Linked DNA regions of Homo sapiens: regions 1 and 3 are each reported to be linked to region 2. Evidence: microRNA targets listed by miRTarBase, many of them from high-throughput screens and not tested one by one. Region 2 holds a microRNA gene; each other region holds the end of a gene's coding sequence.
Evidence for each region. The annotated mature microRNA hsa-miR-767-5p reads UGCACCAUGGUUGUCUGAGCAUG and lies in region 2 at 1,993-2,015, shown strand. An mRNA with a match to its seed (bases 2 to 7 or 8) in the 3' UTR can be bound and repressed. Matches are read on the target gene's strand: a 7mer-m8 pairs with bases 2 to 8, a 7mer-A1 pairs with bases 2 to 7 and ends in A, and an 8mer does both.

Region 1: miRTarBase lists MORF4L1 as a target of hsa-miR-767-5p. Seed matches in the 3' UTR shown: 7mer-m8 at 2,987-2,993.
Region 3: miRTarBase lists COL4A2 as a target of hsa-miR-767-5p. The part of its 3' UTR that is shown has no 7-base or 8-base seed match.

Annotation. Positions count from the first base shown.
Region 1 is chr15:78,896,245-78,900,490 of GRCh38, reverse strand. It overlaps MORF4L1 (mortality factor 4 like 1), which reads right to left. Exons shown (of 12, transcript NM_006791.4): 12 at 2,352-3,508. The coding sequence ends at 3,424. It also overlaps the pseudogene RNU6-415P. Among named protein-coding and RNA genes, the nearest start is that of MORF4L1, 25 kb to the right of the region's middle.
Region 2 is chrX:152,391,250-152,395,495 of GRCh38, reverse strand. It overlaps MIR767 (microRNA 767), which reads left to right and starts at 1,967; the gene lies at 1,967-2,075. The region is part of intron 1 of GABRA3 (gamma-aminobutyric acid type A receptor subunit alpha3); the gene reads left to right. MIR105-1 (microRNA 105-1) reads left to right here and starts at 3,197; the gene lies at 3,197-3,277. It overlaps MIR105-2 (microRNA 105-2), which reads left to right and starts at 1,004; the gene lies at 1,004-1,084.
Region 3 is chr13:110,511,722-110,515,931 of GRCh38, forward strand. It overlaps COL4A2 (collagen type IV alpha 2 chain), which reads left to right. Exons shown (of 48, transcript NM_001846.4): 48 at 213-1,488. The coding sequence ends at 470. Among named protein-coding and RNA genes, the nearest start is that of COL4A2-AS1, 5.6 kb to the left of the region's middle. RefSeq lists enhancers at 195-823, 2,549-3,048.

The DNA of each region.
Region 1 (4,246 bases), not on the chromosome of region 2:
TCGAGGCCAGCCTGACGACCACGGAGAAACCCCATCTCTACTAAAAAAATACAAAAACTAGCTGGGTGCGGTGGCTCATACCTGTAGTCCCAGCTACTCGGGAGGCTGAGGCAGGAGAATTGCTTCAACTTGGGAGGCGGAGGTTGCAGTGAGCCGAGATCGCGCCACTGCACTCCAGCATGGGCAACAGTGCAAGACTGTCTCAAAAAATAAAAAATAAAGAAAAAACCGTATTAAAACCTAACGGTACTAATATTAATATTCATCTAATTTCATGTTTTGGTAAGTAATTATTAATCAGTATGATTTTGATTACATCATTCCAGCTACTTACTACTAATATGTAAGATATTCTGGAGCGACATTAAAATTACTAGTAAATGAAAACATATTCAAAATACTCTGTAGATTTAATGTCCAAAGATTACTGCCTCTTTTAGTGTCATCAGGTAAACCTATCAATGTTCTTTTCTAATGCTATATTTAAATGGAGGGAGGAGGCTTAATGAATAACGAACAAAATCTTGACTTTCAGGTTTTGTGAAGGAATGTTTAAATTTCTGAATACAGAACCCTAAGACTGTTACAACCCTCAGGACACAAATATCTATAGCGGCAGTTCTCAACGAGTGGTCCAGAGATCTCTGCAGTACCTGAGATATTTTCATGCTGCCTATGAGGTTAAAGCTATTTTAAATCAGTCTTTTTCTCGAGTGTACATGAAATTTTCCTGAGGTTACATGATGTGTGACGGTATCATTCTGATGACTAATGAAGACACGTATTTTTAAGTTTTAAAGTTTTAATTTCTAGCACAGTAAATATTGATAATATAAACGAAAAGATCGAGTCCTCAACTTTTTTTTAGGAGACAGGGTCTCGCTCTGTCACCCAGGCTGGAACACAATGGTACAATCACAGCTCACTGCAGCCTTGATATCTTGGGGTCAGGTGATTCTCCTGCCTCAGCCTCTCAGGTAGCTGGGACCATGGGCACACGCCACCATGCCAGGCTACTCATAAAATTATTTGTAGAAGCCGGGTGCAGTGGCTCATGCCTGTAATCCCAGCACTTTGGGAGGCCGAAGCAGGCAGATCACGAGGTCAGGAGATCGAGACCATTCTAGCTAACGTGGCGAAACCCCATCTCTACTAAAAATACAAACAATTAGCCAGGCATGGTGGCGGGTGCCTGTAGTCCCAGCTACTCGGGAGGCTGAGTCTGGAGAATGGCATGAACCCAGGACGCGGAGCTTGCAGTGAGCCGAGATCACACCACTGCACTCCAGCCTGGATGACAGAGAGAGACTCTGCCTCAAAAAAAAAAAAAAAAATTATTTGTAGAGACAAGGTCTCTTCCCTACGTTACCCACGCTACTTTCAAACTCCTGGGCTCAAGTAATCCTCCCACCTCAGCCCCAAAGTGCTGAGATTACAGATTACAGGTGTGAGCCACCACGCTCGGCAAGAAAATCTTTAAATACCTAACCAGTAACACTAATGTTCAAGGGACCATGAGTACACATTAAAAAAAAAAATCACATCTAGGGCTCATTTTGTTAGCAAAAATATTAAAAATTCAAACAATCAAGATTAGCATGGCCCCTGTGCCAAGAATGACACGTAAATTCTTGAAGTGTTTCATTTTTTAAGTCACATCTAGATAAACAAGAACTTTCAACAGCTGAAAGACCCCAGGCAACAACAATCCCTATTTGTTAGAAATCCAACTAAATCAGTACAGTTGTGACAAAAAGGGTAAAGAAAAAGAGAACAAGTAAGCCGAATGAAGGAGGCGGCAGGAAGACAACTATGGGTAGAAGCAGTTCCCTTCAAACAACCCAAGCAAATCCTGCTTCTTTGGAACTTACTCCTATTTCCCTCCTGCACTCATTATCCCTCTTGTATTGCTGCTGTAACTCTCGCCATCTGAACTTATCTGCTGCTTTGCATTTTAATTGTTTTCTGAGGGTTTTTTTTTTTTTTTTTTTGAGACAGAGTTTCACTCTTGTTGCCCAGGCTGGAGTGCAATGGCACAATCTTGGCTCACTGCAACCTCTGCCTCCTGAGTTCAAGCAATTCTCCTGCCTCAGCCTCGTGAGTCGCTGGGATTACAGGCGTGCGCCACAACGCCCAGCTAATATTTGTATTTTTAGTAGAGATGGGGTTTCTCCATGTTCATCAGGCTGGTGTCGAACTCCTGACCTCAGGTGATCCGCCCGCCTCAGCCTCCCAAAGTGCTGGGATTACAAGCGTGAGCCACTGCACCCAGACGCATTTTAATTCTTAACGTCTGCCATCCTCTACCCAAGTACAGACCACTTTAGTGTCCCTATCAAAGGGGAGAAACGTTGCCCTTTACAACTTTTGGGTTATTTTAATACTGTGTTGTCTATTGACATTTTTGGCTCATGTTTCTAGAGTAAACCCACAAAAGTAAACAATTATAGACAGAAAAAAGCTGACCATAATTTTACACAGGTGAAAATGCCCTTAATTAATGCTCAGAGTAAGTAATAATTTAGGGAAAATAAAAAAAACAGTCATGTAAACTTCTAACTTTTTAGCTAAGACTCAAGACAGCAAACTGCCAAAGCTGCTATGGATTAGCGCTACGTACCAAAGCTAAAGCGTCTCATTCCATAAAGGCCATACCAGAAAACAAAGCACGCACCTGAAAAACCACTGTCTAAATACAAGAAGGAATACACAAATATACAATGGTTTTTGTAAGGCATCAACACAAGCACATTGTTCTTTGAAATTTAAAGAAAAAATTTATTGAAGATCTGAAAAACAATTCCTAAAAGATTGACTTTTCCAGAAAACTAGCTACACAATGCATTGCGTCTATCATGTTAAAACGTGCATTAGACACAAATACAAAAACCATGAAACAAGCCACCATTCTTCAACAATTTGAGCCAAGATAAAATGCCTAAGTAACAACATGGATGACTTGCAAAGGATGGGCTCTTTACTTTAAGCACCATAAAAAAAAACAAAAGCACAAATGGATGAGTGTGTTCAGTTATATACACTGAATTGAACCTTTGGCACTAGGAATCAGAGCATTTTGTCATATAGCATTAACATGTATTATAAAAGTGCGTAGTGTCAAAGGAATAGAACCACCAGCATTCAAAAGCAGCTTTGTCAACTAGGCAATAAAACACTCTACAGCATATCCCTCTGTTGTCCATCATTGAAAACACTGGCAGCAATTTTGAAATGAAAAAAAAAAAGAAAGAAGAAAAAAGGAGCTATTACCCCCTTTTATTTTTTCTCTGTTTAAAATCAAACAGAAAACAAACATCAATTGTTATACACTAACATCTTCAAAGCACATCGTTTGTACAAGAGATAGACTAAGAACAAAAATGTGTTTACGGAGATCCAAACATAAGTGAGTGAGAGTGCCTCTCACACAGCTTTCCGATGGTACTCAGGAGGAGCCACTTCATAATCGCTGGCACTGAACAAAGTTGCAGAATTCTTTGCCAGGTACCTAAAAATAAAATATTCATTACAAAAATTTTTAAAGGTCATTATCTTGATCCAAATCTCTTCCTATATATTATATACATAAGCCACAGAAAACACTTTCCTAAAATACATTAAACCAGACATTCTCTCACAGTAAAACCACACATAATGACAATTCAGGTAAATAAATAAGGTTATACAATGAACAACACTATACATATACAAAGGAATGAACTCTGGAGTTACTCCCCTATTTCTAAACAGCAAAGAACAGTTATGTCTGCAGAATACCAACTTGGGAGCTTGAACCATCTTTAAGAAACAGTTATTATCCTATTACATGACAGCATTACCCTAAAAGAACATCTAGACATTTTCTAAAAAAAAAATCGTTATCAGCCGGGAGTGGTGGCTCATGCCTGTAATCCCAGCACTTTGGGAGGCCAAGGCAAGCTGATCACCTGAGGTTGGGGTTCAAGACCAGCCTGACCAAAGTGGAGAAACCCGTCTCTACTAAAGACACAAAATTAGCTGGACATGGTAGCGCATGCCTGTAATCCCAGATACTCGGGAGGCTGAGGCAGGAGAATTGCTTGAACCTGGAGGCAGAGGTTGTGGTGAGCTGAGATCACGCCACTGTACTCCAGCATGGACAAGCGTGAAACTCCATCTCAAAAAAAAAAAAAAAAAAAAAAAGAAAAGAAAAGAAAAAAGAAAAAAATCCTATCAGGCCAAGCACAGTTGCTTACACCTGTAATCA
Region 2 (4,246 bases):
CTGAATGGATACCACTCCTGAAGGATAGCCAACTGCTTGTGTATTTTATGTGTATACTAATTGATTCTCTGTGTATACATCATAGATATTGCTCACCCATCATTAATGTGTAAAAAATAAACATAATCTCCTTCTGTGTGGAGAATGATAACTTTAATAACATGAATATTAGTTCCTGAATTGTGGTCACTGGCTCCTGCAGAATGGGTATTTTCTCCATATTTGCTGTCTGTTCCTGTATCATGCTTACTAACTGTATCATAGCTGTTAGTTTGTGTAATGGGATCGTTTGGATTTATATCATGCCCAAACACAAATGTGTAGAGTCAATCACCATGGTTATTTTTTTTATGAGTCATTATGTCCATGTGAGTCTTTTTTTTGTACCACTGTCATCTTCTCTTGGGCCAAAGTCATTAATTGCTTGCATGGTTATTTTTGATTACATACCATATCTACCCAAGTAAGAATCACACCATGTTTTATTTCCATATCATGTCCATCTGCACCTGTGTCATAATTGATAGCCTATGTCCTGTAGGTGTCTGACTGGACCTCATGAACACATATTAAAACATGCTTTTTGGCATCTTATTCATCTGAACATCCTGTATTATTTTGATCTTCTTTTTGACAAAATGCCATACATACCCGTATTTTTTGTATCACCTGAGCAGTTTTTACTCTGTGATTCTTTCCTGGGATACCATATCTATCCCCTTTTTCATGTATGAATTGACCTATTCTCCATGATAATATAAACATACATAATGAATTTGTGCTCATATACTGTGATTGAAGTTGTACTACGTATTTAAACTTAAACACCACACTTGTGTGAAAATACACAATCATTGTCTACTTGTACTGGGAATGAGTATTTTGTACTATGTATATTAATTTCTACACCATGTCTTTCACTATTGTGATGAGTTTTCTCTGTCCTTTGTCATCTGTCTACTCCCTATAACCTGGTATCAGCTCATGTTGCAGATCTTCTGTGTGTGCATCGTGGTCAAATGCTCAGACTCCTGTGGTGGCTGCTTATGCACCACGGATGTTTGAGCATGTGCTATGGTGTCTACTTTTGCAACATTGCCATCTGCTTCTGGAACAAAGCCACTCATTTTTCTGCTCTGTTTTAAAATCTGGTATCATGTCTGTCAGAAGAATCACAGCATATTGTCATTTATTGTCATATTTACAATAATGGATAGTGGAGCCAAAATGACTGAATTTGAATCCTGGATTATCCACTTACTAGCTATGAGATCTTGGACACATCAGTTCATGAAATGGACACATCAATTCGTATCTTCATGCTTCAGTTTCCTGCAAAATGACAAAAAAAGTAGTAAGGTTATTGTGAGGATTGTATAAGCTATTATACATAAAATATTTTTAATACTGCCTGGCAGGTAGTGATGATGATGATAACAATGATGATGATGATGATGACATGACAATGATGATAATGATACTGTGTCCCTTGATCGTGTATAATAATTGTCAGCTCAAATTCTGGAGTTCTCTAAGTGTGCATTATGGTCAAATGCTGATACTTGTGATAGTGTTTAAAGCATCATTATATAAGTATATGCCATGGCAGTCATTTGAATCGTTGCCATCTGTAGTATTCTATTAGCTACTGCACTATCGTTTTCTGCTATTTTATTATCAGCATCTTCTTCAATATCCTTGTTCATCTGCTCCTATATTATGGTCATCAGCTTATTTTTGTTGGGATATCTGGGTGTACATCGTGGTTTAACAGTCAAATATTAGTGTTAGTTGCTCATGCACCATGATTGCCTGAGTATGTGCCATGATATCTCCTCCAGCATCATTGTCATATGCTGTTTGCCTAAATAAGTTGTATTCATGTGTTATGTTTCCTTTATTCATATGTCCTGTCCATCTGGGCATATTCCTCATTGTGTTATTCACTCTTGTATCACACCCACCTGCTTTTATATTGTAGGTTTTTGCTCATGCACCATGGTTGTCTGAGCATGCAGCATGCTTGTCTGCTCATACCCCATGGTTTCTGAGCAGGAACCTTCATTGTCTACTGCTTTACAGGGAAATAGTGTTTTATGCATCGTGTATATGAGTTTAGTATTTACTCATATTCTATGACTCTCTACTCTTAGATCACTTCTGCCTTTTTCTGCACATTGTTTATCTGTTCCAAAAAGACAGATGTTATCTCATGTCACTGGGCTTTCTAATTGTACATCAGTCAAATGCTTAAATGCCTATGATGTGATGGCTGTTCATGCAACATGGCTGTTTCAGCATATATCATAACTTCACCCGTTTAATCATTGCCATCTTCTCCCAGACTAAAGAAAATAATGATTTTTAATCACCAACCATATCCGTTTTGGTAATCATGGTTTCATGTCTACCTGCTCCTGTATCATTCTTTTACTTTATGTCGTGGGATTGTGTAGGTAGCCATCATAGTCAAATGCCCAAATACTAGTGGTGGCTGTTCATGCAATGGTCATCTGAGTATATGGTGTCAGGTCTCTTTTGACATATCTGACATCTACTCATGGACAAAGCTGTTTACCCCTGTACCGTGGCTCTTGTATAAGGCACAATATCTGTCTAAGTAAGCACCACAGCATGGTTTTATTCTCCGAAAACAAGTTTGTGTGCTGTATCTATCTATGCCTCTTAGCTCCTTTGGCATAAATGCTACGTAATAGTGTAAACTACTTTTGTGTACCTGTGTAAGTCAAGATCAAACAGTCAAATATCACTAATGGCTTTCATCAACTTTTGTCTGAACATGTTACACGGTGGGTCCTCTATGCACCTTTGCCACCTACATTTGAAATAATCATTCATGTATTGAGATGTTTTGATCTTGTACTATATCCATCTATGAGGTCTCCACTTATGATTATTTTCTCATAAGATGTCTCTTGGCTCTAAGTGAGCCCTGGCTAATTTTCCATGGTTGTATGAATGTGCTTATGCCCTTTAGCTATGGTCTTCTGCTCATTCATCATGATTTGTGAAAATGCACCATCGTTGTCTACATTGTACTAAAAATGGAATTTTCTGTACCATGAATATAATTTTGTGCACCATGATTTTTTGTCATACAGTGTGTTTGCCTCCTTCTTCGTCCTCAGTATCTACTCCTATATATTGGATGTCAGCTTCTGTTGCAGAACCTGAGTGTGCATCGTGGTCAAATGCTCAGACTCCTGTGGTGGCTGCTCATGCACCACGGATGTTTGAGCATGTGCTACGGTGTCTACTTTTGCTACATTGCCGTCTGCTTCTGGACCAAAGCCATTTGTTCCTGTGCTCTGTGTTTCTAATCTTGTATCACATCCATATGAGGAAGCATGGCACCATCAGTGTATGTGCACAATGCTCACTGCTTGGACTTAAATCCCAGTTCTCCTATTTAATAGTTTGAAATTCTTGAGGAAGTCATTTCACCCTTCTGTTTCTGTTTTCTAAACTGTAAAATAAATAATAATACCTCATAGAGTTGTGAGGATTCAAAGATGCACATGTAGAATGCTTAGATTAGTGCCTGACACATATAAATGATAAGTATTTGCTGATATTGTTATATTATTTGTATTATGTCTCTTTATTCTTTATCATGACTTTTAGCTTGCATTCTGAGAATGTCTGGTTGTGTACCTTAGTCACATGCTAAATTACTGGTGGTGGCTGTCCATTCAGCATGGTCGTCTGATGTTATACCTTGGTTTTTCCTTTTGCACATATACCCTTTACTCCTTTGGCAAAGTCATTCATTGCTGTGTTGTATTTCATTATTCATCGTGTCTTTCTGAGAAAGAATAGCACAGTAGTTGACTACTATTCTATTTCCACCTGTACCTGTATCATAATTGATAGCTCACCTTTCAGTGTATATTGGTGTGTATTGTGGTTAAATTCTCAAACACCAGTGGTAGTTTTTCTTCCATGTGATCATTGGAGCGCATGTCATGGTGTCTCCTACCATTGCCATCTCCTCCTAAACCAAGGAATTCTTTCCCGTATTGTGGCTTTTCGATTATATATTGTGATCATCTGTACAATTTCAACTATGTGGCTATTTTCTTTGTGTCATGTCTGTTTTCTTTTATGTGTAAGTATTGGCTCATTCTCCATGGTAGACTGAGCACGCGTAAGGAATTTCTGCTCATATATTGTGTATGGGGTTGTACTATAGACTTTCGCTCATACACTATGGTTGTGTAAAAAT
Region 3 (4,210 bases), not on the chromosome of region 2:
TGGTGCCTGGGGCTGCCTCCTGCAGGGGGCCCATGTGTATTTCACCAGCCCCCTCTTGCTGAAGGCGCATTCGCGAGGATGCCTCATGTCCGTATTGACACTCATGGTTTGCTGTTCAGTAAAAACAAATGCACAGAAGAGGGCTATGCCCTGACCCCGTGCCACCTGCAGGCTGTGATTCCTAACCCTGTCCTGCCCCCCTCTCTGTGCAGCACACGGCGGCGGGAGACGAAGGCGGTGGCCAATCACTGGTGTCACCGGGCAGCTGTCTAGAGGACTTCCGCGCCACACCATTCATCGAATGCAATGGAGGCCGCGGCACCTGCCACTACTACGCCAACAAGTACAGCTTCTGGCTGACCACCATTCCCGAGCAGAGCTTCCAGGGCTCGCCCTCCGCCGACACGCTCAAGGCCGGCCTCATCCGCACACACATCAGCCGCTGCCAGGTGTGCATGAAGAACCTGTGAGCCGGCGCGTGCCAGGAAGGGCCATTTTGGTGCTTATTCTTAACTTATTACCTCAGGTGCCAACCCAAAAATTGGTTTTATTTTTTTCTTAAAAAAAAAAAAGTCTACCAAAGGAATTTGCATCCAGCAGCAGCACTTAGACCTGCCAGCCACTGTCACCGAGCGGGTGCAAGCACTCGGGGTCCCTGGAGGGCAAGCCCTGCCCACAGAAAGCCAGGAGCAGCCCTGGCCCCCATCAGCCCTGCTAGACGCACCGCCTGAAGGCACAGCTAACCACTTCGCACACACCCATGTAACCACTGCACTTTCCAATGCCACAGACAACTCACATTGTTCAACTCCCTTCTCGGGGTGGGACAGACGAGACAACAGCACACAGGCAGCCAGCCGTGGCCAGAGGCTCGAGGGGCTCAGGGCCTCAGGCACCCGTCCCCACACGAGGGCCCCGTGGGTGGGCCTGGCCCTGCTTTCTACGCCAATGTTATGCCAGCTCCATGTTCTCCCAAATACCGTTGATGTGAATTATTTTAAAGGCAAAACCGTGCTCTTTATTTTAAAAAACACTGATAATCACACTGCGGTAGGTCATTCTTTTGCCACATCCCTATAGACCACTGGGTTTGGCAAAACTCAGGCAGAAGTGGAGACCTTTCTAGACATCATTGTCAGCCTTGCTACTTGAAGGTACACCCCATAGGGTCGGAGGTGCTGTCCCCACTGCCCCACGTTGTCCCTGAGATTTAACCCCTCCACTGCTGGGGGTGAGCTGTACTCTTCTGACTGCCCCCTCCTGTGTAACGACTACAAAATAAAACTTGGTTCTGAATATTTTTAAACCCCGAGTTGTTGACCGCCTTAATCTCGTGTCCATAGAGCAAAACGTCTGCTCAGATGGATGCGAGGCACAGCGTCCGCCCACGCTGCTGTTTTTAATCCATCTCAGTAGAGTTGAACCCATTCGTGGTATTACAGCCATTTCTCGGGGAATGTGTTTGTTTATAACTCACTAATGCTTACAGAAAACACCCCAACCAGGCCATGCGTGCTGGCTCACGCCTGTAATCCCAACACTTTGGGAGGCCGAGGCAGCTGGATCACCTGAGGTCAGGAGTTCGAGACCAGCCTGGCCAACATGGTGAAACCCCGTCTCTACTAAAAACATAAAAATTTTCCGGTGATTGTAATCTCAGCTACTCGGGAGGCTGAGGCAGGAGAATCACTTGAACCCGGGAGGCAGAGGTTGCGGTGAGCTGAGATCGTGCCACTGCACTCCAGCCTGGGCAACAAAAGTGAAACTCCATCTAAAAAAAAAAAAAAAAAAAAGAAAAGAAAACACCTGAACCAGCACTTGTGGGAATTTGGAGAAAGGGTACTTCACAAATGTAAGTCATTCAATTTGTTCCAACATAGGCTGGGTGCAGTGTCTCACATCTGTAATCCCAACACTTTGGGAGGCTGAGGTGGGAGGATCACTTGAGCCTAGGAGTTTGAGACCAGCCTGGACGATATAGTGAGATCCATGTCTACAAAAAAAAAAAGATCCCACATAACTTCCCAAGTCAAAGCTCAGTATTTCAAAGAAACAATCTCCGAGATTCAACTCACAGTTTATTTTGACCCTCTGAAATGCAATCTCAAATTGAAGTTTTCCTAAGAAAAAGGTTCACATTATGAAATAAGTATCCTACCTTATAATGTTATTTGAAATAGATACGCAGCCGCCCTGGCGCGTGTTCCCCCAGAAGCTGGCTGAGGCCACGACCTCTACACAGCACGGCTATATGGGAAGGCGATATCAGGAAGCCTGAGTGGGACCTGGAGGGGGTGATACCAGGAAGAAGAAAAGCCAACTCAAGGACATGGGACTAAGGGGGTTACCACTGTGGGCTGTTTAGGCTTGATCCTGCTGGGGATCCACCAAGGAAGGATCCTCAGATGGTCCAGCCATGGCTTGGAAAGGGAAGTGTTCTCCATCAGCTGCGGTCTCGACTGGTCAGGGGTTGCCTGAGGGTGCTAATTCCCTCACACTCCCAGGTGCACCACACACCAGCATGGCTGAGTGGGCTCCTGCCAGATGCCAGGTGGAGGTGGTAGAGAACCAGGCAGAGCTGAGACACGGTGTGTCAGGCCACACCTGCTCATGGCCAGTCACCACAGCAATAGCTGTAGCAAAACAGTGGGCCCAGAGCGTGTGAGACGGGGATCAAGAGACCAGAGCTCGCAACCACAGCAACTCTAGAAGCTGGGAAGCAACAATTCATTCTAGACTCCACCCCTACTGCCAAGGAGGCAACCGCAAAGTGTGCTGCAGTCCTGAAGACCCCTGCTCGACTTGAGGTAGGCTTGATACCTTGTGTGTGGATCACACCTCAGCGTCAGTGCCCAGTGTTAAACATAAAAGAAATGTTTCACCCTAGACCTAAAATAAATGAGAAGACAAAGATCCTCAACAAATAATTGGTTTCCAAAATGTGGATCATAAAATATAAACCAATCACAATTCATAACCCTGACATCTGTGCCAGGGAGCCCACGATCCCGCTGAAGTATAGTGAGTGGAGATGCCTCATCTGGAATCGAACCGCTGAACATCCTGCACCTTGAAAATCAGAGCTCTGTCCTTCATGGATCCTGCATGTTGCAAAAGACAGATTTTTTCCAGGCTAGTTTCTTGGTGCCAGGAATAACTGCTCCCTGAGAGCTGAGTGTGCTTGAACCACCCTCTAATGATGTGCCACATTTTCCAGAGGGTGGGTGCCCCAAAGTCAGAATCACTTCCATCTCCCAGCTGCTTCAGACAGTGACTTTCAGCACCCCTGGCAGAGACGCTGCTGGAATGCGCATGAAGATGCGTCTGCAGCCATCCTGACTGGGTAGGGGCGCCCAGGAAGACTCACAAGCCCTGGAGAGCACATCAGCCTTTAAACCACCCAAGAAGAGCACGTTGGCAAGGACGGCCTGGATGGGTTGCTTCAGTGGGCTGGGCCTCCGGTAAAATGAATGAAAGTACCTGTGCATCAGAGTGACATCAGGAGAATGAAATCAGTCACTACACGTGAACGTGCCCAAAGCCGCAGGTATGTATGCACTCGTACGTGTCCAGGACCTAAGAGGAAGGAGGTAGAGAATCGCTGCAACCTGGGAGTTCTAAATGTGTTGAGGTTGAGGACTGTGATTTAAAATGCACAGTGCAGGGAAGGGAGGAGAATGATTTGGAAAGTAAATTCCATGACATGCTAGACAAGGAAGGGAAGGGTAACACTGAGCTGATCTTAAAGTGACAGACCAAACCCAAGCAGATGTCTTGAAGGCAACGAGGGAACAGCATCCTCACCTCCCACACGTGGTACAGCAAGAGCCTCACTCTGCAGACTCAGGAAGGCACCAAGCTACAAACATCTATGAGCTATTTGTATTCATACAGCATAAGTTCAGCTCAGCCAATAAAATGTAAGGCTGTCCTTCCCCCTGAGAAATACTCAGTGCTTCTGGTTACACCTGGAGGTGGCTTTTCCTTGAGGCTGCCTTCCTGGAAAAGGGCCATCCACTTATTTAAAAAGAAAAAACCACAGAAGTTTCAGGAGCTCATTGAAGCCGGTAGGGGAAACGTGCTATTAATAATATAAGTAATTTGGAAATGAGTGGCGTCTCTAAGAACAAAGGCAAAGAGAACTGCACACAGCATTGTACTCTAGTGGATAAAGTTGTTTCTTGCAGGAGTACCAGTGAACAGTGCTGAC